7 linked regions of the Homo sapiens genome follow. The protein of the gene in region 6 purifies or fractionates together with the protein of the main gene of each other region. This does not show direct contact. Each region holds a gene or a part of one and is shown on either strand. Other genes may lie near its edges. The genes, in order: ALDH1L2, YLPM1, ZC3H11A, SRSF10, MTCL1, ODF2 and DSG1.

Evidence for each region.
Region 1: the proteins of ODF2 (region 6) and ALDH1L2 purify together in Homo sapiens (co-immunoprecipitation; one large-scale study listed by IntAct). This does not show direct contact.
Region 2: the proteins of ODF2 (region 6) and YLPM1 purify together in Homo sapiens (co-immunoprecipitation; one large-scale study listed by IntAct). This does not show direct contact.
Region 3: the proteins of ODF2 (region 6) and ZC3H11A purify together in Homo sapiens (co-immunoprecipitation; one large-scale study listed by IntAct). This does not show direct contact.
Region 4: the proteins of ODF2 (region 6) and SRSF10 purify together in Homo sapiens (co-immunoprecipitation; one large-scale study listed by IntAct). This does not show direct contact.
Region 5: the proteins of ODF2 (region 6) and MTCL1 purify together in Homo sapiens (co-immunoprecipitation; one large-scale study listed by IntAct). This does not show direct contact.
Region 7: the proteins of ODF2 (region 6) and DSG1 purify together in Homo sapiens (co-immunoprecipitation; one large-scale study listed by IntAct). This does not show direct contact.

The regions. Positions count from the first base shown.
Region 1 is NC_000012.12:105,081,659-105,085,682, forward strand, and holds the start of ALDH1L2 (mitochondrial 10-formyltetrahydrofolate dehydrogenase precursor), read right to left. Parts: upstream 2,801-4,024; 5' UTR 2,779-2,800; coding exon 2,731-2,778; intron 1-2,730. UniProt on the Homo sapiens protein: Mitochondrial 10-formyltetrahydrofolate dehydrogenase that catalyzes the NADP(+)-dependent conversion of 10-formyltetrahydrofolate to tetrahydrofolate and carbon dioxide.
Region 2 is NC_000014.9:74,766,316-74,769,815, forward strand, and holds part of YLPM1 (YLP motif-containing protein 1), read left to right. Parts: intron 1-3,500. UniProt on the Homo sapiens protein: Plays a role in the reduction of telomerase activity during differentiation of embryonic stem cells by binding to the core promoter of TERT and controlling its down-regulation.
Region 3 is NC_000001.11:203,794,417-203,798,422, reverse strand, and holds the start of ZC3H11A (zinc finger CCCH domain-containing protein 11A), read right to left. Parts: upstream 2,801-4,006; 5' UTR 2,629-2,800; exon of another isoform or gene 901-2,628; coding exon of another isoform or gene 1-900. Other genes in the region: ZBED6 (zinc finger BED domain-containing protein 6), read right to left, coding at 1-900. UniProt on the Homo sapiens protein: Through its association with TREX complex components, may participate in the export and post-transcriptional coordination of selected mRNA transcripts, including those required to maintain the metabolic processes in embryonic cells.
Region 4 is NC_000001.11:23,977,528-23,981,718, reverse strand, and holds the start of SRSF10 (serine/arginine-rich splicing factor 10), read left to right. Parts: upstream 1-1,391; 5' UTR 1,392-1,463; coding exon 1,464-1,528; intron 1,529-2,901; coding exon 2,902-3,006; exon of another isoform or gene 3,007-3,066; intron 3,067-3,090; exon of another isoform or gene 3,091-3,808; intron 3,809-4,191. UniProt on the Homo sapiens protein: Splicing factor that in its dephosphorylated form acts as a general repressor of pre-mRNA splicing. Seems to interfere with the U1 snRNP 5'-splice recognition of SNRNP70. Required for splicing repression in M-phase cells and after heat shock.
Region 5 is NC_000018.10:8,704,268-8,708,355, forward strand, and holds the start of MTCL1 (microtubule cross-linking factor 1), read left to right. Parts: upstream 1-1,288; 5' UTR 1,289-1,393; coding exon 1,394-2,446; intron 2,447-2,490; exon of another isoform or gene 2,491-2,872; coding exon of another isoform or gene 2,873-2,998; exon of another isoform or gene 2,999-3,869; intron 3,870-4,088. UniProt on the Homo sapiens protein: Microtubule-associated factor involved in the late phase of epithelial polarization and microtubule dynamics regulation.
Region 6 is NC_000009.12:128,494,006-128,497,505, forward strand, and holds part of ODF2 (outer dense fiber protein 2), read left to right. Parts: intron 1-504; coding exon 505-663; coding exon of another isoform or gene 664-726; exon of another isoform or gene 727-835; intron 836-2,035; coding exon 2,036-2,136; coding exon of another isoform or gene 2,137-2,292; intron 2,293-3,500. UniProt on the Homo sapiens protein: Seems to be a major component of sperm tail outer dense fibers (ODF).
Region 7 is NC_000018.10:31,352,660-31,356,159, forward strand, and holds part of DSG1 (desmoglein-1 preproprotein), read left to right. Parts: intron 1-1,240; exon of another isoform or gene 1,241-1,277; intron 1,278-1,637; coding exon 1,638-2,687; 3' UTR 2,688-3,500. UniProt on the Homo sapiens protein: Component of intercellular desmosome junctions. Involved in the interaction of plaque proteins and intermediate filaments mediating cell-cell adhesion.

The sequences.
Region 1 (4,024 bases), on a different chromosome or scaffold from region 6:
TTTAAAGCAAACCATTGTTTTAGTTAAAAAGATCCAGCCATCACTAAGCTGAAATCATTAAGTATTTCTAAGTCCTTTTATTTAAGACAGAGGATGGAGAAATGAATTCTATCAAGAAGTGTTATAAACTAATTTTCCCCTTGGATTTTGCTAGGTTCTGAAAGCTTTATTTTTATTCATCCTTCATTCTGCTTTAATACTAAACTTAAAAGCATTGTTTGATTTTTAAATTTTAAAGATAAAGGGATAATTAGGCCGGGCACAGTGGCTCATGCCTGTAATCCCAACACTTTAGGAGGCCGAGGCAGGAGGATCACTTGAGGCCAGGAGTTCAAGACCAGCCTGGCCAACATGGCAAAACCTCGTCTCTACTAAAAATACAAAAATTAGCTGGGCATGGTGGTGCATGTCTGTAATCCCAGCTACTCAAAAGGCTGAGGCAGGAGAATTGCTTGAACCCCGGAGGCAGAGGTAGCAGTGAGTCAAGATTGTGCCACTGCGTTCCAGCCTGAGTGACAAAGTGAGACTCTGTCTCAAAACAATAAAAATTAAAAGATAATTTGCATGGGTAAAATGCACCCTCTTCAGTGTACTGTGCTGTGAGTTTTAACAAACACACAGTCACGTAACCACTACCATAATCAAGATGTAGAACAGTTCCATTACCGCCCAAATTCCTTTATGCCTATTTATAATCAATCCTTCCTCCTATCTCCAGCTCCAGACATCACTGATCTTTTTTCTGTCCCTATAGTTTTACTCTTCCAAAATGTCAGATAAATGAAATCATAAAATATGTAGCATTATGAGTCTGATTCTTACACTTAGCATACATATTTGAGTTCCATCCATGTTGTATGCATCAGTAGTTCATTCCTTTTTCCCCCAACTGAGTAGAATTCCATTGTATGGATGGATATACCACAGCTTGTTTATCCTGTCACCAGCTGAGGACAATTTATTTCCAGTTTTTGGCAATTATGAATAAAACCTCTAGAAACATCAATAAACAGGTTTCTATGCGGGCAAATAAGGTTTCATTTCTTTTGAGTAAATACCTAGGAGTGTGATTCCGGGGTCATATGATAGGTTTATGTTTAACTACATATAAAACTGCCAAACAGTTTTCCAAAGTGGCTGTACCATTTTATATTTCCACCAGCCATGTATCTGTTTGATTTTGAATAATTCTTATAAAACACAGTCCAGAACATTTTCTACAGGATAAAACATCCCACATTTTTCATTCACCACTCAGTAGCTTCCTTTCGACCACTGAGGAAACTGTCTTCTTCCCAGCCATGAGTATCACTGCTTTTCCATATGCACCCCTGCGTACAGTTAGACCCTGATCACGCCAGTTCTTCCCCACATCCATAGTTTTGTTTATGCCATTTGCCACCTGAGATGTTTACCTTTTATTACTGAAATCTTATGCAAACCGCACTATCAAAATCTTTTCATTCTGCAAGACTTCCTTCTGGTCACCAAAAAAGACAAGTCAGTGAAAGGTGTTGACAGAGGAGGCCAACAAAACAGGCTCAGGCATTGGGCACAGCCCGTTGCTTTCTGTGCTATCCATCTGGGATCCCATGTGCCACGTGGTGGGGGAAGCTAATGAGGGGTCCAGGAGAGCAGGCCAAAGTCCTAGCAGAGCAGGTCTTCCCCACCCCCACCCCTCGTTTTATAAAAGGTGACTATACCTCAAAGTAACTAGAACTGGTTGCAAAGAGTAAAACGAATTCTTATTATTTGGGGTTGTCTGGGATACAGAAAGCTTTTCCTTTGATGCAAGTTTGGGCCAGTTTTTGGTGCTACTCAAGACTTCTCTCTGCCTCCAAGTTTTTTACATCTGAATATATACATATGTACATATGGCTTTGGCATGGCCGAGAAAAAGAATCGATAAGCAAATTCTTTTATGTACTTCCTATAAAAGATACGATACATAAGACAGTTTTTATTTTTTTTTTTTCTCTCTCTCTCTTCCCTAAACAGTCCCGAGGCCCCCTGGGTGCTGAAGGCAGCACCGCAGTGCAACGTGTCCTCTCTCGGTTCCATTTCTGGAGGAGCTGATGCAATTCCAAGGCGCGGGGCTGGGCCAGAGCTCGGTTCTTGTGCTACAGTAGAATAGTGTTCCAGCGTGGCTGCCTCTGCAGCGCCTGGCAATTCTAGAAATTTTGCCATCTGCAGCTCAGCTCAGGAATACTGAGCTTGCAGCCATCAGCTTTGAGTGCCATTATCTGAACCGGCCCTGCGTGCCAGTCTCGAGCGCTTACACCTCCCAGGCCGCCAACGAGGACCCTATTGACTTGATACTCCCCTCCTCCAGGAGACAGTCTCGGTTCCATATGGCTCCAGCTCTTGACCAGGGATCTCATGATTGAAGTGAAAAAGGAAAGGAAGCAGACTCTGTCCTCCTTACCAAGTGACTGTTCCCACCTTGCCATCCCAGCCAGACTTGACACGTCCAAAAACTGCATCCTCAGCCCCCTCCCGGCAGAAGACAATGGCCTGCGTGCCAGTTCCCATCCGGGACCCTCCCCAAGCCCTCCTCTGAGGTCTCTCTGTTTTTGTTTGTTTGTTTGTTTGTTTTAAACGCTGTCTTGGTGTTTAGCAAAGTCTAAGCATCGCTGCTCATCCCCAGCCCCACCGCCCCGGCCCTCCCGCCCCGGAGTCTGGAAACCAGGACAGGGTGACAGCCGGGACGCTCGCCCGGGCCGGACTCACCCGGCCAGTGGAGAAGCGCCGGAGCGCCTGGCTGCCCCGCCGCAGCATGCTGGAGAGGAGCGCTAGCACTGGCGACGCGGCAGCGCGGGAGGCAGGCGGGCGGCGCAGCCTGGGCGCGGCCTGGGCGCGGCCTGCAGTCTGGATGCCCCGGACTGCCTGGCTCGCGGCTCGCCGCTCTCGGCCTCTGCTAGTCCGCACCCCTCCCAAAGCCCACAGCCCGCGGCCCGCCCCACCCTACCAGCTGCAAGGCCCCGCCCCCTAGCTGTCAAGACCCCGCCCCCAGCTGGAAGGCCCCGCCCCGCCAGCTGGCTGCGTTCGGACAGCCAACCTGGTGCGACCCGGCGGAGCGCGTGGGCTTCCTGGAGCCTGTGGGCCCTGACCCTGGTGCCAAGAGCGCACCCAGTCCCAGGGACCGCGCCTCTCCGCTGCCTGGACTTTCCGCCAATTCCAGCCAAGGTCCAGGTGCTTTCTAACTGTGGGACCCTCTACCAGTTACTCAGCCCCGCAGCAGTGTATACGGATCTACCTTATTAGTGGTCAATCTGACATCCCAAGTGCTGTCCATAGCACAGCCCGTAAAAGGCACGCCTGTAGACAGATAGGTAGTGGGGGCGCCTTCGCTGTGGAGGGATCCTGATGCCTACCTCGTAGGACGGTAGGCCGGGCGCGGTGGCTCCCGCCTGTAATCCCAGCACTTTGGGAGGCCGAGGAGGGAAGATGGCCTGAGCTCAGGAGTTCGAGACCAGCCTGGCCACCATGGTGAAACCCCGTCTCTACTAAAAATAAAAAATAATAAAATAATAAAATAATTAGCCGGGCGTGATGTCGCATGCCTGCAGTCCCAGCTACTCGGGAGGCTGAAGCACGAGGATCACTTGAGCCGGGGAGGCGGAGGTTGCAGTGGAGCTGAGATCATGCCACTGCACTTCAGCCTGGACAACAGAGCGAGACTCTGTCTTAAAAATAAATAAATAAATTGGTGCAAAAGTAATTGTGGTTTTTGCCACTGAAAATAATGGCAAACCCGCAATTACTTTTGCATCAACCTAATAGATACGTGCCCTTCTCCCTCACCTCTCTGGAAAAAACGCTCAGACCTGCTTTAGCTGGACGTTTATCTCAAGCCAGACTTCTTAGCCCAGCATTCAGGGCCGTCTGCAATTTGCCATTTTCTCTTATTTCTCACTGCTCTTTTGCATATGTAATTCTGCTTGACTGCAGTTCTTGCCTATTCCTTCTTGGACAATGTTTCCCAGAAAAGCTTGTCATCTGTCACTTGTAATTATCTTGGCAC
Region 2 (3,500 bases), on a different chromosome or scaffold from region 6:
TCATATTTTGTTTTTGGAATGTGTCATTCAAAATTTCTTATCGTGAAATATTTTTAAAATACACAAAATAGAGAAAAAAGTATGATTCCCCATACATACCCATCATTGAGATTCAACAGCTATCAAGATTTTGCCATGTTTACTTCACCTAGGCCTTTTTTATTATTGTTGCATATATATATATTGAGACAGGGTCTTGCTCTGTCAGTCACCCAGGGTGGAGTGTAGTGGCATAGTCTCAGTTCACTGCAACCTCTGCCTCCCAGGCTCAAGCCATCCCAAGTAGCTGGGACTACAGGTGCATGCCACCATGCCTGGCTATTTTTTTTTTTTTTTTTTTTTGGTAGAGACGGGGTTTTGCTATGTTGCCCAGGCTGGTCTTGAACTCCTGAGCTCAAACAGTACACTGCCTTGACCTCTCAAAGTGCTGGGATTATGGGCATGAACCACCACACCTGGCCTCTGCTGAAATATTTTAAAGCAAATCTTAGATCTTATGTCATTTCATCCCTACATTCTTAGTCAAGTACCTCTATAAAACAAAACAAAACAAAACCAAGACCTTTTCTTTTTTTTTTTTTTTTTTGAGATGGAGTCTCACACTGTTGCCCAGGCTGGAGTGCAGTGGCGCGATCTTGGCTCATTGCAACCTCTGCCTCCCGGGTTCAAGCGATTCTCCTGCCTCAGCCTCCTGAGTAGCTGGGATTACAAGTGCATGCCACCACGCCTGGCTAATTTTTGTATTTTTAGTAGAGACGGGGTTTCACCATGTTGGTCAGGCTGGTCTTGAACTCCTGACCTCATGATCCAGCTGCCTTGGCCTCCCAAAGTGCTGGGATTACAGGCGTGAGCCACCGTGCCCGGCCAAGACCCTTTCTTAGATAAACACATTGTTAACACCTAACAAAGTTAACAGTTTCTTGGTATCATCTAATACCTGATCCGTTCAGATTTCCTTTATTGTTTCATCATACTAATGAACTAAAAATAATTCTTTGATACCATCCATGTTAAAATACCCCAAATTGACTCAACAGTGTTGTTGTTTTCTGTCCTCACAGTCTGTTCCCAAACAATGTTTTTTTGGTGTGTTCAAGTCAGAGTCCAAACAGAATACTGAAAAGATTCTTAGTATAGATCAGGGTTTCTCAGCTTCGGCACTATGGACATTTTGGGCAGGATGATTCTTTGTTGTGGAGGGGCTTGTCCTATGCATTGTAGGATGTTTAACAGCGTCCCTGACCTCTACCCATTAGATGCCAGTGGCAGCCCCCAGTCCGACAACCAAAAATGTTTCCACACATTGCCAAGTATCCCCTGGAGACAAAATTACCCTCTGTTGAGAACCCTTGACCTAGGTCAGTCCCTCCTATTTTCTTTTTCTACCTCATGTCTTTGAACTTGATGAAAAATCTGTTGTCAGTTTTCCTGTAGAATGTCTGACATTCTGCATTGTCTGCTTTTTCATGGTGTCACATTTGACTTGTTCCTATGTCTTCCACATTTTTTTTTTTTTTGAATTAGAAGTTAACTCTGGAACCTTCATTTAAGTTCAGCTTTCTTTTGGCAAGTGTTGCATTCCTCATGGGACACCCGATGCCTGGTTGTCCCACTGTTAGTAATGCCATTGGTCCCTCTACTGTAAAGCTTTCTATCAATCTTGCATCTAATGTTTCAGTCTACTGGTTCATCAATTGAAGAAAGACCTTGCCTAAGTAAATTATTTCATTAGACAGAGGTTGCAACCTGGTGATTTTTTTTTTCTGCCATTTCTTCCACAGTTACTATATGGAGTTATGTAAAGAAAAACTTTTGCCACAGATATTTGATTGGAAATACAGTTGGTATAGGAAGGACAAGATAAATACTTGATATTTTTCCAGGTGTTTTCTAGTTTTTCGGGTAAAGTGTTGATGATTTAATGGAATGTGTTTTTTTGTTTGTTTGTTTCTGAGAGAGAGTCTCACTCTGTCGCTCAGGCTGGAGTGCAGTGGTGAAATCTCGGCTCACTGCAACTTCCACTTCCTGGGTTCAAACAATTCTGCCCTAGCCTCCCAAGTATATGGGATTACAGGTGCATGCTACCATGCCTGGCTAGTTTTTGTATTTTTAATAGAGATGGGGTTTCACCATGTTGGTCAGGCTGGTCTCGAACTCCTGACCTCAAGTGATCCACCTGCTTCGGCCTCCCAAAGTGCTGGGATTATAGACGTGAGCCACTGCGCCCGGTCGGAATGTGTCTTTTTGAATAATTAATTTTTCTATGTGTTTAAAGGACTGATTTATTTAGTTAAAGCTGTTGGCTTTGATTAGTTTTTAGAGGTATCATTTATTTAATGTTTAAATACTTACGGACTAGCAACTATGTGCCAGGTACTATGAGTACTGTGCTTAATACTGGAGATGAAATGGTTAACAAGATAGACATGGGACCTGCCCTCATTGACTTCTTGTTTCAGTTGTGGGGGAAGGGAGAAGACATTTAGTAAGTAATTAAGAGGAGACGTACAGAGTGCTATGGGATTATAAAATATCACTAGATTATTCCCCAAGGAACTGGCAAAGGCAAGTTTTTTGTTTTTTGTTTTTTTTTTAAGTTACCACTGTATTCACAGTACCTTGCATAGGATCTAGCGCATAGGAGGTGGAGAACAAATATATTTTAAATAATTGAATATAGCTGGGAGCGCTAACCTAATTAAAGAGGATTCCCTTTGTAAAGTGATATTTTTTATTTTTTATTTGTTTTTATTTTATTTTATTTATTTTTATTTTTTTGAGATGGAGTCTCGCTCTGTTGCCCAGGCTGGAGTGCAGTGGCGCGATCTCGGCTCACTGCAACCTCCGCCTTCCGGGTTTAAGCAATTTTCTGCCTCAGCCTCCCTAGTAACTGGGATTACAGGTGCCTGCCACCACGCCCGGCTAATTTTTTTGTATTTTTATCTTTTTTTTTTTTTTTTTTTTTTTTTTTTTGGAGACGAAGTCTCACTCTTGTTGCCCAGGCTGGGGTGCAATGGCACGATCTCGGCTCACTGCAACCTCTGCCTCCCGGGTTCAAACAATTCTCCTGCCTCAGCCTGCCTCAGCTACTCCCAGGAGTAGCTGGGATTACAGGCGCCTGCCACCACGCTTGGCTAATTTTTGTATTTTTAGTAGAGACGAGGTTTCACCATGTTGGCTAGGCTGGTCTCGAACTCCTGACCCCAGGTGATCTGCCTGTCTCAGCCTCCCAAAGTGCTGGGGTTACAGGTGTGAGTCAGAGTGCCCGGCCATTTTTTTTTGTATTTTTAGTACAGAAGAGGTTTCACCATCTTGGCCAGGCTGGTCTTGAACTCCTGACCTCGTGATCCACCTGCTACGGCCTCCCAAAGTGCTGGGATTACAGGCGTAAGCTGCCACGCCGGGCCTGTAAAGTGATATTTAAATGAACTCTAAAGAATAAGTAGGAGGACTGGGTGCTCACACCTGTAATCCCAGTTCTTTGGGCTCATTAGAGGCCG
Region 3 (4,006 bases), on a different chromosome or scaffold from region 6:
GTGGGACCCTGGCCTACCCCGGCTCACACTTCTTTTACATATATTACACACAGCTCTTGAGATGTGCTGAGGATCAGTGTAAAAAAAATTCCAAACGGCAGATGTCTTGGCTCTAGTTCCAGGAATTAAAGCATGCTTGACAATGTTACTTTTGATGAGAAATCTCCCTCTTTCTGCCCTTAGGGCATCAGATGCTGATTTATCATGCTTCTTGCCCATTCTATTATCATCTAATGGATCAGTAGGAATATATTCAAAGCTTCCATTGCTTCCAGAAGAGGGAGATAAAGACACATCCAAGGTAAAGTCCTCCTCTCCACTAGCAACTCCAAACTTGTTGGCCCTGGTCCAATGAGGTGAATGCCTTGCTTGCAGATGTCGTTGAAGAGTAGATGTACCAAGATGGCTACCTGGTTTACCCCTGCTGACGCTTTTCTCACAGAGGTTACAAATGGCCCGCCAGGTGTACTGGGGGTCAACATGAAAGAAGTGCCACACAATGGAGGTCTTGGCTCTAGTACTAGGTAGATAGATCTGTTTTTCTATATTGCTCTCAAAAAGACTTTCTTCATCCTGCTCAGGGTCATTGGAAGCTAACAAAGCAGGGGCATCTGCAACAGGCCTCCCAGATCCCAAATCCTTACTAAACTTTTTGGCAAGAATCAATTTTTTTCGACGCCTTTTCCCCTTAATTCGCAAACCCTTCTTTCTTTTCTTTTTAGCAGGCTGTTTTGCCTCTTTATTCACTCCTTCTGCTACCATCTTTTCCTCTACCACATCTTCTTCATCTGTATTAGAATTAATAGGAACACATCCCAGAATCCCAGAATCACTAAAAGTGTTGCATCTTCTGCCAGGAGAGAGTGAAGAAACTGGTACACTTAGAGTACATACACTCATTCTCTTTATGTCTCCACAATTCGTACCAGAATCTGTTAGTGGGTTTATTACTCAAGCAGAAATACAGCTGTTCCTCTCTACTTGCATTACCTTTTCTCCAGTTTCTATGGGGAATCAAATTCCCACTGGACCAATAACTTCCAAGCCAGGTTATTTTTGGAGGAAAACTGACAGCAATGGAGAACATTCCCGAACTCTTTCTTAGAGGGCTTTAAGGTCCCTTCCAATTTTCTAAGTTCTGAATTCAAATAGTCCAGTGTCCTCATGTTACAGAAGTAAGAACTGAGTCCCCCTTTCCCAGAGTCACAGAGTTGGTTAGTAGCAGCTAGAAGCCAGGTCTTCCAAATCCCAGATCCATGTTCTTCCTGCTTCATCAAGAACTATATCTACTTGAAATGCCTTCACCTTGTAAAATACATATTTTTATGATGCCTCATGATAGCGACATCAATTTCCCTTAATTCTGAAATTAACTATTTTCAGGAAATCTCATTTAAACAAAAACATAGTGCATCATTCAACATTCATCATTTAGGACTGTGATTTGCCAATACAACCCAAAAAGTCAATTCTGGAAAGCCAACACAGACTCCGCATACTGGTCACAGCAAATGCTAGTTGAGCCCTTTCAGTTCTAACTAAAAGTAATACAACCTTTTAAAATGTGAGTGGCTGGAAAAAAATGCTTTGAGAAAAAAATTTTAAAACAAGGTTAAATGCTGCATTTTCAAAGTACTGTTTGTATTAAGAGTTAATTCAAGTTTAGTTTTCAGATATTTTTAGACTTGAGAAGCTTTTACAGCCTGTAAGTAACTCACAAGTTGTACGCTATAGAGATAGCAAAAAGTGAAATATGAACTTTAAACCACTTCCATTTTTCGATTGATCCCTCCCCTTCCCCCAATACCTACATACATTTACCCTAAAAAGCATCGCTATCTCTAGTTCCACAGCCTCTTTCTCAAGGTCCAGAACCAAGGCCTGGAAGATGTCAACAATATAGGCCTTCCCCATAGGAATCCGCACCGATTATGGGAGTTTAGGGGTGTTCTTCATTACGGTTTCACCAGTCCTACAAGGAGAACGGAAGTGTCCCTGTTGCTCTTGACTCCGACGCTGAGGGCCAGGGGTGGGAGTGTAATGAGAGTGGGGAATGGGTGTAGGATACCGGAATAAGGTCGGTGGCTTTCTGTATGTGGAGTTTGAGACAAGCTCCAAAGTACCGGGACCCTGGAGAGGAATGAGAGTAGGTAAATTCAGCGCCCGGCACTCAGTCTGATTGATTTAGGCAGTGAGGGTCCGCTCAACTAGAGAAACTGTTGCCCCGAAGAAAGCAATCTAGTGTCAGTTCTCTCTTCGGGATTCGGGGGAACAGTCGGTTTTCGGGGCTGCTCCGGGCTCCTCGAGATTAGCGAACACCGGATGTGGGGGAGGGGAGGAAGGTTGGCTGGGAAAGGAGCAGGCGCCGTGGGGGTGGGGTGAACGGGGTGGGGGTGGGGAGGATGGGAAAAGTGAGCGGGAGCCTGGGGCTCCCAGCCAGCCCCGGCGAGGGCCGCGACCGGGAGGTGGGGGGGAGGGGTCGTTACGGCGAAGCTGAAGGATCCGCTCTGACTTCCCGGGATAGGCCGCGACCCAGGGGCGAGGGGAGGCCGCTGCCACTCCCCTCGCCCTCTCCCCCACCTCCCCGGCCCCAAGCCACCCGGGAATCAAAAAAACGGGTCTAGTTACCAGAGAACAGAAACTTTACCGAACCGATGACACTATCCCCGACTCCCGCTTGCTGCCACGTCTTTCTTCTTGCTTGGCCGCTGCCGTCCGTCGTCCTCCCAGCAGCAGCAGCACTAGCAGAAAACCAAGACTGCCAGCGTCAAAGATGGCGCCTGGCTACAGGCTCCGCTCTAAGGCCCGGCCGGTAAAAGTGCCAGCACGACGCAGGGCGCGAGGATTCTGGAAGATGTAGTTCCTCTATGAGGCGATGCCTAAGATGGCTGCTCCGGGTCACAGGGTCACGTGACGGGGGAGGCGCTGGGTCGGGGAGTCCCTTCCCTTCAGAGGAATGCCTCGAAGCCGGCTTTCATAACGTTTTGTTTTTGTTTTTAAATCAAATGAGGTAATAAGCGGGAGGGCCGCAGGAACTGAGACTGCCATTCAGTAAGCGCTCAATTTATTCTTACCAAAGTGTTTGCTTAATGAGTAAATCTCCCAAACCATGTATACATTTAATTTAGAAATAAACTGTACTTTTCCTAAGCATGCAATGTAGAATGATTTGTTAGTTTATTTTTTACTTGAAGAAGTGAGATTGGGCTTTGGGGGGGTGTTTCTTTGATTTCTTAAAGCAAATTTGTGTATTGGAAAAGTAATTCATGCTCGTGACAAAATTCAGGAGAGTTAGTTGGAGGTCGCAATCAGCAGTCTCATCCCTGCTTCATTATTAACATTGTCCCTTATTTTCCCTTTTGAATGTTTTTACTTTTTCCCCCGGTTATAAAAGTAATACACGTGGCCGGTGCGGTGGCTCACGACTGTAATTCCAGCACTTTGGGAGGCCTCGGCAGGCGGATCACAAGGTCAAGAGATCGAGACCATCCTGGTCAACATGGTGAAACCTCATCTTTACCAAAAATACAAAAATTAGCTAGGCGTGGTGGCACGCGCCTGTAGTCCCAACTACTCGAGAGGCTGAGGCAGGAGAATCGCTTGAATCTGGGAGGCAGAGGTTGCATTGAGCTGACATCGCACCACTGCACTCCAACCTGGCGACAGAGTAAGACTCCATCTCAAAAAAAAAAAAAAAAAAAAAAAGTAAAAAACTTAATACACGTAAGTTTTTTTAGAAACAATACAGAAATATAGAGAGTAGAAAGTTAAAATCTCTATTAATCTCATTCTTGAGAAATAGCTCTCATTAACTTACCATATATCCTTTCTGGCTTTTACACTGAAAATATACTTAAATATATTACACATATAATAGGAGCCCAAGGTCCCCCTGGGGTAGTGGCTCAGCAGAACTCTAATTAGGTGGCAACATTTTACCTAACTTGGGTAAAGGATATAGTTGTGCTACTAAGAAAGGAAACACTTGATGATAAAGCAGATGGGA
Region 4 (4,191 bases), on a different chromosome or scaffold from region 6:
TGTGCCACACGCTGGAGGCATTCCAACTGAAGTCTCTCATCTCCAGAAGTTGACTCTTATCGAGCAGGAAATGGCTCTCAAAAGGGCCTCCAAAATCAAAACCATACTAAAGATTATTTGCTATTTTCATGCTCATTCTCTTACAAACGTGGAGTTTTCCAGAGGGTACATGATGTGTGATAAAGGGTAGTGGAGTGTGTCAAAGTTTTCTCTATTTTTTTTTTTTTTCTTTTTTGAGACGGAGTCTCACCCTGTCGCCCAGGCTGGAATGCAGTGGTGCAATCTCGGCTCACTGCAACCTCTGCCTCCCGAGTTCAAGCGATTCTTCTGCCCCAGCCTCCCAAGTAGCTGGGATTACAGGCGCGCGCCACTACGCCTGGCTAATTTTTGTATTTTTAGTAGAGATGGGGTTTCACTGTGTTGGTCAGGCTGGTCTCAAACTCTTGACCTCGTGATCTGCCCGCCTCGGCCTCCCAAAGTACAGGGAGGGATTACAGGCGTGAGCCACCGAGCCCAGCCGAAGTTTCCTCTATTTTAAGTTCTCATTAACTATTTATTAATAGGTATAACCCACACTTTTTTTAAAAAAAGCTCTTTGGAATCTTCCGTAATACACAAGAATATAAAGGCGTTCTGAGACCAAAAAGTTTGAGAACTGCTGCAATACAGGTCCGATGCATACCCAGGAAGCCGTCAGCAACAAAGAATACACTACAAATGACCACAGTCATGAACCTACAGTGTGAGGTTTGGTCCCACCCAGGTTGGGAGCCAAATGCGTGACTAAGTGGAGATGGCTAGGGTGTGGGTGAGGGGCAAAGGCAGGCTGAAAACACTGGAGAGACAGGCCCAGCTCTGCGCAAGGGCACACACCTCCTTCCTTTACACACTCAATACAAGCTGTAAATCCTTCTTTCGCAGGTCAGGGCATAACCTGGACCAAACGGGAAATTTAAGGCAAAATAAAAGCAGGACATTAACTTGGACCAACCGGGAAATTTAAGGCAGCCTCTCTGAACTAAATAGTTTAAAAATCTGTCCATTTAGTAGTAACCGCAAAGTTTGGCCTAGAGACTAAAACATCTGCTTCCTGATTTGGGGGTGGAGATGAAGTGGAGTGTAAGGTAGAAAACGGCGGGAAATGAAGACCTAAAGAAAGAAAGAACAGGCTTGGGGGAGGGTAAGAGGCACCGCAAGAAGCCAACGAATGACACCGACGCTGAGGCGCGTGCGCCAGCCCTCCGCATGCGCAGGCGGACGCCTGGTGTTCTCGCGGGAAAGAACCGTTGCGCCCGACTTTGCGCGGAGGTAGGAGGGGGAAGTGGAGGCGGGAGTGAAGTCTCGCGAGAAGAGTCGGTTGCCGTAGCAGAGCCCTCTAGCTGTGTGTGTCTGAGGCTCGGCCGCCTGAGCCGCGGACGGTTTGCTGAGCCCGTTAGTGCGCCCGGCCGAGACACGCCGCCGCCATGTCCCGCTACCTGCGTCCCCCCAACACGTCTCTGTTCGTCAGGAACGTGGCCGACGACACCAGGTAGGTACAAGGCAGGTACTCCGGGCCTAGGCGGGGAGGCCGCAGGCGCCTGGAGAGGACCCTGGTGGTGGCGGCACTGGGCCGGGGGAGGGGACGGAGTGAAGATGGCGGGTCCCGCGCCCGCTTTGGCGCCGAACTAGGCCGCGCAGCGGGCCTCAGCCGCCGCGTGGGAGCGAGGGCGGCGCCTCTGCCTTCGCCGGGCCGCGTGGCGGGGTTTTTCGGTCCCCCTCCCCCTCCGCAGTTTGCAGCCCCTTTCTCCCTGCTTCCTGCCGGCGCGAGCAGCCCCCCGCCGCGGCCTTTCCGCGACCCGACGGCCGCCCCCCATTGATTTGAAGTTCACATTCTTCGAGGTTCACGCCCCCTTGGCCCAGAGATTTTTTTTTTTCCCCAGCCAAAAAATAGTGAGATGAAATAACGGGATCGAGGGAGAGGAATGTTGCTACCATTTATCTTTGTTGTTGTTGCCGTTGTTAATATTTGGGGGTTTTAATCAGTTGGAGGTGTTTGGAGAAAGGGAGCGTTGAGATTTGGGGAGTTAGATTTTTCCAGTTAAATGTTGCGAGTAGTTTTTCTTATTTCCTGGAAATTCTGGTCACCCTTTGAAAAGGGAGGTTTGGGAAGCGTCAGTCATTAGGACGTTGACAGCTAAGTTAGATTAATTCAGACGTACCTTAAATAGGCTTTGTTCTCACCATTCCCTTGTTTCGAGTTGCCTTCAGATTATTTTGGAAGAGTTCTTACTACAAGATGAGGCTTTTTATTTCACAAATAATGAATCTACACACAGAAAATAAGTGGTTTGGGTTTTTGGTGTTTCGTGGGGGTTTTTTGCTAGCTTTGTGATTTGCTTTTGTCTTAAATTTAAGAAGGAAAGAAAGCAATAATTCTTTCCATAAATAATTCTTTCCATAATTTCTAATAGTTACGTTAGCATCTAGAGAAATTTTCTCTTTACGTCATCTTGACACTTAACTATTTAAGAAGTTCGATATTTGTGACTTTTTCAGACCATATTTATCTACTGTTAAGTGTGTAAATCTGTCGCTAAAATTGGGGAGTAAAAATAAGTGCTTGGTATTTTTCAGAGTGCTAGAGTCGATTTGATGCTGTAAAAGTAAAAAAAAAAAAAAAAACAAGGCTTATATACAACCTAATGCTGCTGTACCTTTTATGAAAAATGACGGCTGTAGATAAAAATAAGTTGTGGTCATTCCCTTGTACCATACATATGTCTGCTGTTGTCCTGTTAATGTAAACTGCATTTTTATCTTCCAAATTCTTGGATCCTAGCTTTCCTTCATCAAAAAGATATATTGCCTATACATCTTAAGGACTTGGACATAAAAATTTGAGGTCTTTTTATGATGTTTTAGGTCTGAAGACTTGCGGCGTGAATTTGGTCGTTATGGTCCTATAGTTGATGTGTATGTTCCACTTGATTTCTACACTCGCCGTCCAAGAGGATTTGCTTATGTTCAATATCCTTTCTTCAGATGGCTGATTAGTGAGGGGTGTTGAAGTTTGAAATTCAAGTTTATGTAAGTGGTAACATCTAAAAAGTAGTTCTTTTTGTCCTCTAATAAATGTCTGTCTTCAAATTTTTGAAAATTAATTCTGACTCACACATTGCTCTCGTTATTAAAGTTAATCCAAAAATGGTAAAATATATAAATTCCCATTCATGCTTCTGAAACTCATATCGATGATTATATATGTGATTTAAATTTGAATGCACTCTGGTTGCTACTACCTTTAATGTAAGTCCTTTAAAAGTTAATATGTTCTTGTGCTTAGCAATTAAAATTTGGTATTCTTGTTTGTTAATTTGAATCACTTGATCAAAAACAAATTGTATAACAATGAGGTAAACTTCTTTAATATTGTCCCCTAATTTGCTGTCCTCTGTTGTTACCTCAGAGAATGTAAAGCTGTACAGTTATGGCGACCCCAAAGAGAAAGCATGAAAGAACCTTTAGAGTAGAGTTCAACACTTAAGGCAAGTAGACAAGCCAAAGACCTCTTAAGGATCAGGCTTGAAGAGAAGGGAGAGTTTGGGAAAAGAAAAAATAAAGAAAAGCTGGAAGAAGGACAAGCCTAATGGGAGACAAAGCCTCGCTTTATCTACAAAAGGGGGAAAAGGTTGTTTTTCAAAGTTAAAGATAAAGCCATCTGTCATATTTGGCCAAGCATCTCATGACAAGTCCTTCTGACAAGCACTTAAAGAGTTAAAGGTCAAGATGAAGTTGAATGATGGCCAAGATTAAAGGAGTCATACCTGATGTATCCTACAGAATAACTATTTTTCTTTTTTTTTTTTTTAATGTTTTGTAAGCAGTTAATTTTCAAAATTATTCTGGTTTGGTCTAGTGACAAAACCTGTAACTTGATTTATGTGGGCCTTTGATGTTGTGATTGTGGTCTTGTGTAAATGCACTCTCTCTTATGAAGTTAAAGTGTAACAGGATGTATATTCTTAAGATTAAATTCAGCATATTTTGGTTTTGGACCAGGTGGTCAGATGCCACGGAGTAGCAGGCAGTGCTCTTTGGAGTAGCGTGGGGTTCTGGGGTTAAGCCACAGAGCCCTGCTTAAAGGAGAGACAGGTGCATGCACTGGGGACTACTTAGAAACAGCTCTGGTGGTCTTGTAGGGTCAGAACCACT
Region 5 (4,088 bases), on a different chromosome or scaffold from region 6:
TTACAGTTTGCACGGTGTGTTCTGGTATTTGCTAAATCTTCACACATGCTCAGGTGGCAGTACGTTTTAATGATACAGGCGAGGGAACTGGGGCTCAGAAAGGTCTAGTGCCTTGCGCATGGGAGACTCAAGTGGTAGAACCGGTGGCCGGGCTCCGGGCTCTGAGCGGAAAGCCTGCAGGACTCGGAATCCTGAAGACCTGGGTTTAAACCCGCTCAGCTAGGGACTGGGTGAGGCATCGCAGGCAAGTGACTTCACCTCCCAGCGCCGGTGCCCTAGTCTTCACCGAAGACAGCAATTCCAATCTGGGACTGTGGTGAGGCTTAAATAAAACACTGCTCAGTAAGTGGCCAGCAGGCCTGGCTCGCAGCCGGAACTATAAATGTGAGTTCCCTTTCTGACCCCCAGGTTTGGCGAGGGCTCCTCCTGTTTGGGCAGCAGCTCCTCCTGAGCTCCCGAGGCCACGGGGGTGCCAACTGTGGAGCGCCCGCCGTGCCGTTTAGACGCGAGAGCTGCGTCGGGTACCAGCGATCCTTAAAGGAGCTCGGGGACCAGGGGCACAGCTTGGAGAGGACAGCGAGGGAGGTGACTGGCCTCGGGGAGGCGGGCGGTGGATGGAGAGGCATGAGAGGGGTGTTGTCAGCCGCGGCACACGCCTTCCCCAAGTGGCCGGCGCCGCCCCTTGCCACCACTTCACCTCCGCCTCTTCCCTTCCTCCCTAGCTCCTGGCAGCGTCTCTAGGGCCTCAAAAAGCAAGGAGGGTCCCCGGGCAGCGAGGCCCCATGGATCCAGCCTGCGCCTGCTCCCAAGGGCGCGCAGGTCCCGCCCCTGCCGGGCGCCCGCCCCCCGGGGAGCGCAAGCCCCCGCCCCTTCCCTCGCCCCTCCCCTGCACGGCGCCGGCTGGCTGGAGGCGGGGCATGCGCACGGGCCTGGGCGAGGGCGCTGGGCGGCGGGGAGGTGGGGCGCGCGCGTGCGGCTTCTCTCAGCCGGGAGCGGCGGGGGCGGGCACGGGCAGCAGCGGGCCGGCGGTGGGCGGGGAGCGGGACGCGGGAGCCGGGCGCGCGCCGCCAGCGCCGCCGCGGCACCGGTGACCGCGAGCCCGGAGCGCGAGGTCCGGGGATGCGAGCGGCCGGGAGCCGCCGCGCTGCTGAGCCGGGAGAACTCGATCCGCGGTGACCTCAGCGAGGGGCGAGCGCGGCGGCGGCGAGCCCCGCGGGAATCCTCGGGGCCGGGGTGCGGGGGGCGGGGACGGCGGGAGCGCGGGGCGCAGCCCGGGCGGGGCTGGGACAGTGATGAGAGAGCGCGCGGGGAGGCTGCACGCCGCCGCCGCCGCCGCCGCCGCCGTCGTCGTCCGGAGCATCTGCTGCCTGAGCTGCTGCCGGCGGACCCGGCCATGGAGACACTGAACGGCCCCGCGGGCGGAGGTGCCCCGGACGCGAAGCTGCAGCCGCCCGGCCAGCACCACCGCCACCACCACCTCCACCCGGTGGCCGAAAGGCGGCGGCTGCACCGTGCGCCCTCGCCCGCCAGACCCTTCCTCAAGGACCTGCACGCCCGGCCCGCCGCGCCCGGCCCGGCCGTCCCCTCCTCGGGCCGAGCCCCGGCTCCCGCCGCCCCGCGCTCGCCCAACCTCGCGGGCAAAGCGCCGCCCTCGCCGGGGTCCCTGGCCGCGCCCGGCCGCCTCTCTCGGCGCAGTGGCGGCGTCCCGGGCGCGAAGGACAAGCCCCCGCCGGGCGCCGGGGCCAGAGCGGCGGGCGGTGCCAAGGCTGCCCTGGGAAGCAGGAGGGCGGCGCGCGTGGCGCCCGCGGAGCCGCTGTCCCGGGCTGGGAAGCCTCCCGGAGCCGAGCCGCCGTCTGCCGCTGCCAAGGGCCGCAAAGCCAAGCGCGGCTCCCGGGCGCCACCCGCCCGCACCGTCGGCCCCCCGACCCCGGCCGCCCGGATCCCTGCCGTGACCCTCGCGGTGACCTCGGTGGCCGGGTCCCCGGCCCGCTGCTCGCGCATCAGCCACACGGACAGCAGCTCCGACCTCTCTGACTGCCCCTCCGAACCCCTGTCCGACGAGCAGCGCCTGCTCCCTGCCGCCAGCAGCGACGCCGAATCCGGCACGGGCTCCAGCGACCGTGAACCCCCACGAGGAGCGCCGACGCCGAGCCCCGCAGCCCGAGGAGCGCCGCCGGGCAGCCCCGAGCCCCCAGCGCTCCTCGCCGCGCCCCTCGCCGCGGGCGCCTGTCCCGGGGGCCGGAGCATCCCGAGCGGGGTTTCGGGGGGTTTCGCGGGGCCCGGCGTGGCGGAGGATGTCCGGGGGCGCTCGCCACCGGAGCGACCAGTCCCCGGGACCCCCAAGGAGCCCAGCCTGGGCGAGCAGTCTCGGCTCGTGCCAGCGGCGGAGGAAGAAGAGCTGCTGCGGGAGATGGAGGAGCTGCGCTCGGAGAACGACTATCTCAAGGTGAGCCGCGCCTCGGCCGCAGGTGTCCCGGGGCGCCCCCGGAGGGCCTGGCTGCGGCGGGGACCCGCCAACCCCTCCTTCCCGGGCCTGTCCAGCGCCTTCTCCCTCCTGCTCTCCACGGTCCTACCCCCGCATTGTCAGGCATTGGCAACTTAAGCCCAAACTTCTGGAAGGAGAAGCAAGACCTGTGGGACCCCGCCAGTTCGCAACCCACTTCTCTTTTCTCGCGTCTAGAACTCTTGCGTCTCTTCGCTGATACTTTTACTTTTGTTGACCTGTTGGGGCAGAGGAGGCTGTAATCGTTTTGGGGACATCAGCGGACGCCCCCATCCCCGCTCAGAACGTGCCAGCCTCACCTGTAGGAACAGGTGATCCTTCGCCAGGGAGCTCTAGCCGGGCCACGTGCGGGCGTGGCGGTTCAGGATAATGCCACTGGAGGGCCCCCGGCTACGGACCCGCTTGCCCCTTCTCCTGCAATTACGGAAAGAGCTGGGGGCTCTCAGGGTCTCCTGGGCTCCGACATCCCGGGTAGAGGGGGCCGCGCCGTTTTCGGTGAGCAAGCTGAAGCTCAGTAGAGGTCCTTGGAGTGTGGCCCGGGTTGAGGAGCAACGGTGTTGCGCGGGCCAGTCCTTTGTAAGCATCCAGGAGCCGGCTTTCTGTGTCAGGAGAGGCCACGCCAGCACTTTCTAAGGAATCGCGGCGCCTGCTGCACTCTCTGAGTATTTTCCGGCAGGGCCTGCGGGCAGTGGCGTCTTAGTCGCCTTAGCACTGGGTGCTTAATCCGGCTCCATCTTTTCTCCACGGAGGGGGCCTGGTGCTGCAGACGGGGTTCCCGGGGTCAGGACGATCCAGGTGACTTGAGAGAAAATAAGGGGAGTTGTATTGACACCAACTGTTTTATTTATTGTGATCTTCAGGTTAGTAAACAACTCCAGTGGCATCAATCTGTGTATCTGTTAAGTCTTAATGAGCAGCCAACCAAACCCAGGGGTGTGGCCCTGCTTCTTCAGTGGGTTATGTGATTTGAGCTGTTTTCTCAGCAAATGATGAGCTAACCAATACGGGCCCAGTTTTTGGCTAGTGAGATTGAGGATTGGGCTTTAAGGTGCATGGTGGTGAAGTCTGCAGTTCACACGGAAATCAGAGCACATTAACTGCTGGGTGATCTCAAGCCTAAATTTCTTATGGAGCTGCTCCAACCAACTGAGCCTTGTGGTTATTTTACTTTGTGCAAGAAGTAACAGTGAGGCAGAGAAAGAGAGGTGATAAAAGAAAGATTGGGACTTAAAGCAAGATATTTCAGATAGTATGTTTGTTTTTGTCACTTACTCTTAGGTAATAGACAACGGAGTGAAGTTCAAAGGCAACTATGTTGTGGGTGACTCCATCATGAAAGCAGCTCTTTTGTAAATCTTCAACAAATGTAAGCTCCCTGAGGGTGACCAAGATAATCTTGTTGTTTTTGTATCCCTGGCTCTTAGCATAACCCCTGACTTACTTTCTGATTGAATGATGTTTATCCAAATGACTGCTGTGCAAGGGAAAACTGTATTTCTTTAAAGAAGTTTCTCATTGCATCTTTGATCTTAAGGTAGGCTATCCATCATTTTGAAGTTCATTCTTGGTGCAACTGGTTATTTCC
Region 6 (3,500 bases):
GGTGGTGTCGAACTCCTGACCTCAAATAATCTGCGCCCCTTGGCTTTCCAGAGTGCTAGATTACAGGTGTGAGCCACTGCACCTGGCTTGGAGTTAGACTAGACTTTAATCCTGTGTTTACCAGTTTTTAGCTGAATGACCTTGGGCAAATGACTTAGCTCTCTTGATGCTTACTATACTTGTATGGGGACAGCATCACCTATTTTACAGGTTGTCTGAATTAAATGAGCAAGTGTGCAGAGAGCCCCTGGTACAATGCCTGGGTCTTGGTGTTTACTGTGTGGTTGCCATTGTTACGGGATAACTAAATGAATGGCAAGCCACCTGCTCAATGGCCAGCGGGGAGTGTAGGCCACACTTCTGCTGTGGATTTTGCAGGATCCTCCACTGGGGACTGTGTCAGCCCTGCCCTAACTCTAAAGGACTCTGCCTGGCTCCACTAGGAGCCAGGTCTTTCCTAACTGTGGGTCTTTCCTTCCTGTGGGTCTTTCCTTCCTGTTTCAGGCACGAAGGCAGTTCCAGTCTCAGCTGGCTGACCTGCAGCAGCTCCCTGACATCCTGAAGATCACGGAGGCGAAGCTGGCTGAGTGCCAAGACCAACTGCAGGGCTATGAGCGGAAGAACATCGACCTCACAGCCATCATATCAGACCTGCGCAGCCGGGTAAGGGACTGGCAGAAAGGGTCCCACGAACTGACCCGAGCAGGGGCCCGCATACCAAGATGAGCTGCACGCCCCCCAAGGGAGGACTACTTCCTTTTTCTTGGCTGCTGCTTTTTAAAAGGAGTGAGCTATCATCAGTGCTGTGAAATAAAAGTCTGGTGTGCCAAATGCCATGTGTTTGCACAAAGTGATTGTAGTTATAGGAGCCGTCACTTGCGTGGAGTCACTGGGCCCTCCTGCTGTTGCCCCCACCCAAGACTGCTGCCTCTGCCTGTGTGCTCCGCAGCTGTCCTCAGCTCCACACCCACAGCTGGGAGATGCCAGCAGACACCGAGCCGTAGAATTTCTTTTTTTCTCTTGCTTTAGCTGCTTCTCCTGACTCTTTAACAGATGCACTGCCTGAGATTCTGTCCTGAAAGAAGCAAGCATCCCTTTCTCCCAGAAGCAGTCTGTCTCTGGGTTACTGGAACCATGCCTACGGCCTGCAGTGTCCAAGAAATTATATACCACTCATTTGCAGCGTGACCTTGGGCAAGGCCCCTTTCCCACTCTTGACGTGTGTACTTGTGATAATTAGAAAAGGGGCTACCATTTTTTGAGCACCTCTTCTGTGTTCCTGCATTCTCTCATTTAATTCCATCAGGAACTCTGTGAGGTGCATGTGTTATTTTCCCCATTTTACAGAAAGCAGCCCAAGGCATAGAGAGGAGAAGTAATTCCCCACCATCACAGAGCTAGTACCTAGTAAGCAGGGATTGGAACCCAGCCAGCTCTGTCTGGTTCCCAAGCCCACATTCTCAGTACTGTAACCTTACATTGCCTGCCTTCTCCGTTGAACCTGAGCATTCTCAGGGACTTTGAGCCTTGATAGCTGAGGCTTCTGCATAAAACAGCCCTCTGGGTAAATTCTCAAACTTGCCAACTCAAAAGGATTGACAGATTTCCTGTTGTCTTGCCTGCACTTGTCCCCAGTTAAGAGGAGGTTGAGATCAATAGTACCAGCAACATAACAGGTAAAGCTCTGTGGTTGGTTTGTATGGGCCAGTTAGCCCTGCCAGCTGTTTCTGCCTTCTCATGTCTGTCCTGGATCCTAGCTGGGTCTCTCTGAGTGGCCTCCCCTGATCGAGAAAGCATCTTTGTCATTCTTTAGCATCAAACCTGGTTTCTCCCAGTGTGGGGAGAGCCTTTTGTCTTTGGAGTTGGGCCTAACCTGTCCCTGCTGTCCTTTCTCCTCTAGGTTGTGCGTTGAGACTTGGACACCTGCTGAGGGCACTGTGCCCCTTTCCTGGGTGTGGACAACAGGTCATAGGGAAAGGGGAGGGCTCTAGCGGGAAATTCCTTTGTAAACCAGTCTGTGTTCCTGTCATTTTAGATCGAACACCAGGGGGACAAGCTGGAGATGGCGAGAGAGAAACATCAGGCTTCCCAGAAGGAAAATAAACAGCTGAGTCTGAAGGTGGATGAACTGGAGAGGTTAGAGGCACTTGGTCCCATCTCTGTCCTCTTCCTAGGACCTGAGACTTTCAGCCACTTAGCTGTTTTTTGCTTAGTGTGCGGAAGTGTTGAGGGACTCGAGGCCCTGGAAGGTACTAGGCAGACCTCAGAGGAAAAGCTGCTTCCATTTCAGTGGTAAGCATTGTGGGAGAGAGCAAGGGGGCCTCTCAGCCTGGGGAGACACTCCATGACAGCATGATCAGGATCTGCCCACCTGTAGGCACCACCTGTCCCAAAAGGCATGCCTGGTCCAGGCCTGCCAGGAGGGCCCAGTTTGAATGGAGCAGCCAGTATACTGTGGTGGGGGCACTTCCCCACTCTTTTCTGCCCTTTCTTGCCAGTCACCCTTCCCAAGACCTTTCTGATCTGACCGTTCTCTGTTATTTACGGATTGTTGGAGGCAGTCAGAGGTGAAGGGTACGGCTTTGGGAATCAGAAGCCCTGGCCTTGGGGCCCAGCTCTGCCACTTACCAGCATTGTGATCTTGAGCAAATCATTTAATTCCTTTGAAGCTCAATTTCCTCCTTTTGAGGAAAGGGTCAAGGTAGAGTTTATCTATCTATCTATCTATCTATCTATCATCTATCTATCATGTCACTCTGTCACCCAGGCTGGAGTGCAGTGGTGCAATCTCAGCTCACTGCAACCTCGACCTCCTGGGCTCAAGCAATTCTCCTGCCACAGCCTCCCAAGTAGCTGGGACTACAGGCGTATGCCACCATGCCTGGCTAATTTTTGTATTTTTTGTAGAGATGGGGTTTCGCCGTGTTGCCCAGGCTGGTCCTGAACTCCTGGGTTCAAGTGATCCACCCACCTAGGCCTCCTAGAGTGCTGGGAGTACAGGCGGGAGCCACCACACCTGGCTGATAATAATCTTTTCATGGTGGTGGTGTGAGTCTTCAATGATATAATCCTGGTAAAGGTCCTAGCATGTTACCTGGCATAGAGAAGCGCTCAGTATAGCTTAGAACATGTTATTAGTTAGCTGGTATTATCCCAGTTTTAAATATGAGGAAACTGAGCTTGGGGAGGAGTTAAGTGACTTTCCCAGCATCACACTGTTGGTACCTGGCAAAGCATGACTTAGACCCGTGACTGTCTTCCTCGAGAGCTTCTGTGAGCATCTCTAAGAGGTAGGCAAGAGGCCGGGCGTGGTGTCTCACGCCTGTAATCCCAGCGTTTTGGGAGGCCGAGGCGGGCGGATCACGAGGTCAGGAGATCGAGGCCATCCTGGCTAACACGGTGAAATCCCGTCTCTACTAAAAAAAAAAAAAAAAAAAAAAAATATATATATATATATATATATATATATATATATATATATGTATAAAATTAGCCGGGCG
Region 7 (3,500 bases), on a different chromosome or scaffold from region 6:
TGCTCATTTCTTTTTATTCTTTTTTCTCTAAACTTCCCTTCTCGCTTCATTTCATTCATTTCATCTTCCATTGCTGATACCCTTTCTTCCGGTTGATCACATCAGCTCCTGAGGCTTCTGCATTCTTCACGTAGTTCTCGAGCCTTGGTTTTCAGCTCCATCAGCTCCTTTAAGCACTTCTCTGTATTGGTTATTCTTGTTATACATTCTTCTAAATTTTTTTCAAAGTTTTCAACTTCTTTGCCTTTGGTTTGAATGTCCTCCCATAGCTCAGAGTAATTTGATCGTCTGAAGCCTTCTTCTCTCAGCTTGTCAAAGTCATTCTCCATCCAGCTTTGTTCCGTTGCTGGTGAGGAACTGCGTTCCTTTGGAGGAGGAGAGGTGCTCTGCTTTTTAGAGTTTCCAGTTTTTCTGTTCTGTTTTTTCCCCATCTTTGTGGTTTTATCTACTTTTGGTCTTTGATGATGGTGATGTACAGATGGGTTTTTGGTGTGGATGTCCTTTCTGTTTGTTAGTTTTCCTTCTAACAGAGAGGACCCTCAGCTGCAGGTCTGTTGGAGTACCCTGCCGTGTGAGGTGTCAGTGTGCCCCTGCTGGGGGGTGCCTCCCAGTTAGGCTGCTCGGGGGTCAGGGGTCAGGGACCCACTTGAGGAGGCAGTCTGCCCGTTCTCAGTTCTCCAGCTGCGTGCTGGGAGAACCACTGCTCTCTTCAAAGCTGTCAGACAGGGACATTTAAGTCTGCAGAGGTTACTGCTGTCTTTTTGTTTGTCTGTGCCCTGCCCCCAGAGGTGGAGCCTACAGAGGCAGGCAGGCCTCCTTGAGCTGTGGTGGGCTCCACCCAGTTCGAGCTTCCTGTCTGCTTTGTTTACCTAATCAAGCCTGGGCAATGGCGGGCGCCCCTCCCCCAGCCTCACTGCCGCTTTGCAGTTTGATCTCAGACTGCTGTGCTAGCAATCAGCGAGACTCCGTGGGCGTAGGACCCTCCGAGCCAGGTGCAGGATATAATCTCGTGGTGCGCCGTTTTTTAAGCCCGTCGGAAAAGCGCAGTATTCGGGTGGGAGTGACCCGATTTTCCAGGTGCCGTCCGTCACCCCTTTCTTTGACTCAGAAAGGGAACTCCCTGACCCCTTGCGCTTCCCAAGTGAGGCAATGCCTCGCCCTGCTTCGGCTCGCGCACAGTGGACGCACCCACTGACCTGCACCCACTGTCTGGCACTCCCTAGTGAGATGAACCCGGTACCTCAGATGGAAATGCAGAAATCACCCGTCTTCTGCGTCGCTCACGCTGGGAGCTGTAGACCAGAGCTGTTCCTATTCGGCCATCTTGGCTCCTCCTCGAAACCAATTCATGTGATTTTTTTGTGTATGGTTTTATGTCCAAAGTACACAATTATAAATAAGTCCATCTAAGTAAATTTTTAAAATCATAGTATTAGAATTATACTTAAAATGATTTCTAACCAAATTATTTCAAATAATTATAAAATGATTTTTAGAGCATCTCTAGTATGTTAAAATCTTGTTTTATTTCATTCCTCTTTGGAAATGCTCTGGAAGAAAAACTAATGATAAAGGCTGTTCTATTATTGTTAAATATGCATTCATAATTTCATTTTCTCTTTCTCCTATAAATTCAGAAAGCATATGCTTACGCAGATGAAGATGAAGGACGCCCATCTAATGACTGTTTGCTCATATATGACATCGAAGGTGTAGGTTCCCCTGCTGGCTCTGTGGGTTGTTGTAGCTTCATTGGAGAAGACCTGGATGACAGCTTCTTGGATACCCTGGGACCTAAATTTAAGAAGTTGGCAGACATCAGCCTAGGAAAAGAATCATATCCAGACCTTGATCCTTCTTGGCCACCACAAAGCACTGAACCAGTTTGCCTTCCTCAGGAAACAGAGCCCGTTGTTAGTGGACACCCACCAATCTCCCCACATTTCGGCACTACCACAGTAATTTCTGAGAGCACCTATCCCTCGGGACCTGGTGTACTGCATCCTAAGCCTATTCTCGATCCTCTGGGCTATGGTAATGTCACTGTGACCGAGTCTTACACCACCTCTGACACTCTGAAGCCCTCTGTGCACGTTCACGATAACCGACCAGCATCAAACGTGGTAGTGACAGAGAGAGTGGTCGGCCCAATCTCTGGCGCTGATTTGCATGGAATGTTAGAGATGCCTGACTTGCGAGATGGGTCGAATGTTATAGTGACAGAAAGGGTAATAGCACCAAGCTCTAGTCTACCCACCTCTCTGACTATCCATCATCCTAGAGAGTCTTCAAATGTGGTAGTGACAGAAAGAGTAATCCAACCAACTTCCGGCATGATAGGTAGTCTGAGTATGCACCCCGAGTTAGCCAATGCCCACAATGTCATTGTGACAGAGAGGGTTGTTTCTGGTGCTGGCGTAACTGGAATTAGTGGCACCACTGGGATCAGCGGTGGCATAGGCAGCAGTGGCCTGGTTGGCACCAGCATGGGTGCTGGGAGCGGTGCCCTGAGTGGAGCTGGCATAAGTGGTGGTGGCATTGGCCTGAGCAGCTTGGGAGGGACAGCCAGCATTGGCCACATGAGGAGTTCCTCTGACCATCACTTTAACCAAACCATTGGGTCCGCCTCCCCTAGCACAGCTCGAAGTCGAATCACAAAGTATAGTACCGTGCAATATAGCAAGTAGTCAGGACCCCAGCTCACTTTTTCATAGTCATTGTGGTTTAGATCCAATTCCCACCACTAAAAAACCAACAATGTGATTTATAACGCACAACTTCGTGCTCAGGTCATCTAGGAGCAAGGTGAGAAATCACAATGAGAAAAATAAATGGAAACACCACTGCTAGGGGAGAGCTCTCCTTAGCATTCATAAACTTTTCTCTTATATTAGGACTAAGGAACTAAAACTTGAGGCAGAGTCTTCTTTGTGCCTGAGTGGCCTGTAGTCCATCTCCAGCATGTAACTGGCCTTACGATGGCAATTGGCATCATTCTCCTTGCTCTGTTTTGCTTTTCCATATAGCTCGAGCAAAATTCAAAAAGAACTAAATATGCAATATATGTTCATATCTATGGGAAAAATCTAAAATGTGTGCCAGATGCCCTGTTGGTTTCACAGATAACATAAATAAAAATTCAACCACAGATTTATACAAGGGTTAACCATTTTTTTTAAGTTTGACTACATAGTCAAGTCCACAAGCCATCAAGCACTCCTACCTTAATTATTGCACTAGAGAAAATAAATTCCAAATTAGGAAGTGTTTCCTAGGAGGAAAATTCCATTAGAGAGTGGCAATAGGATGAGGTTTCTTCAGGGTAAACTAGCAATGCCTGAGCCTGAACCTTAATGTGGGGCCTCAGTTAAATCTCCTGTGGAGTCAAGGATTCTTCTGATTCTAGTGTGTGTTTAGTGATAGATGTAGTCTTGACGAATATTGCTTACTGGTGAGGTTGAGGAATATCACACTCGTCTTTCCCTTTACCACTGTGGTTT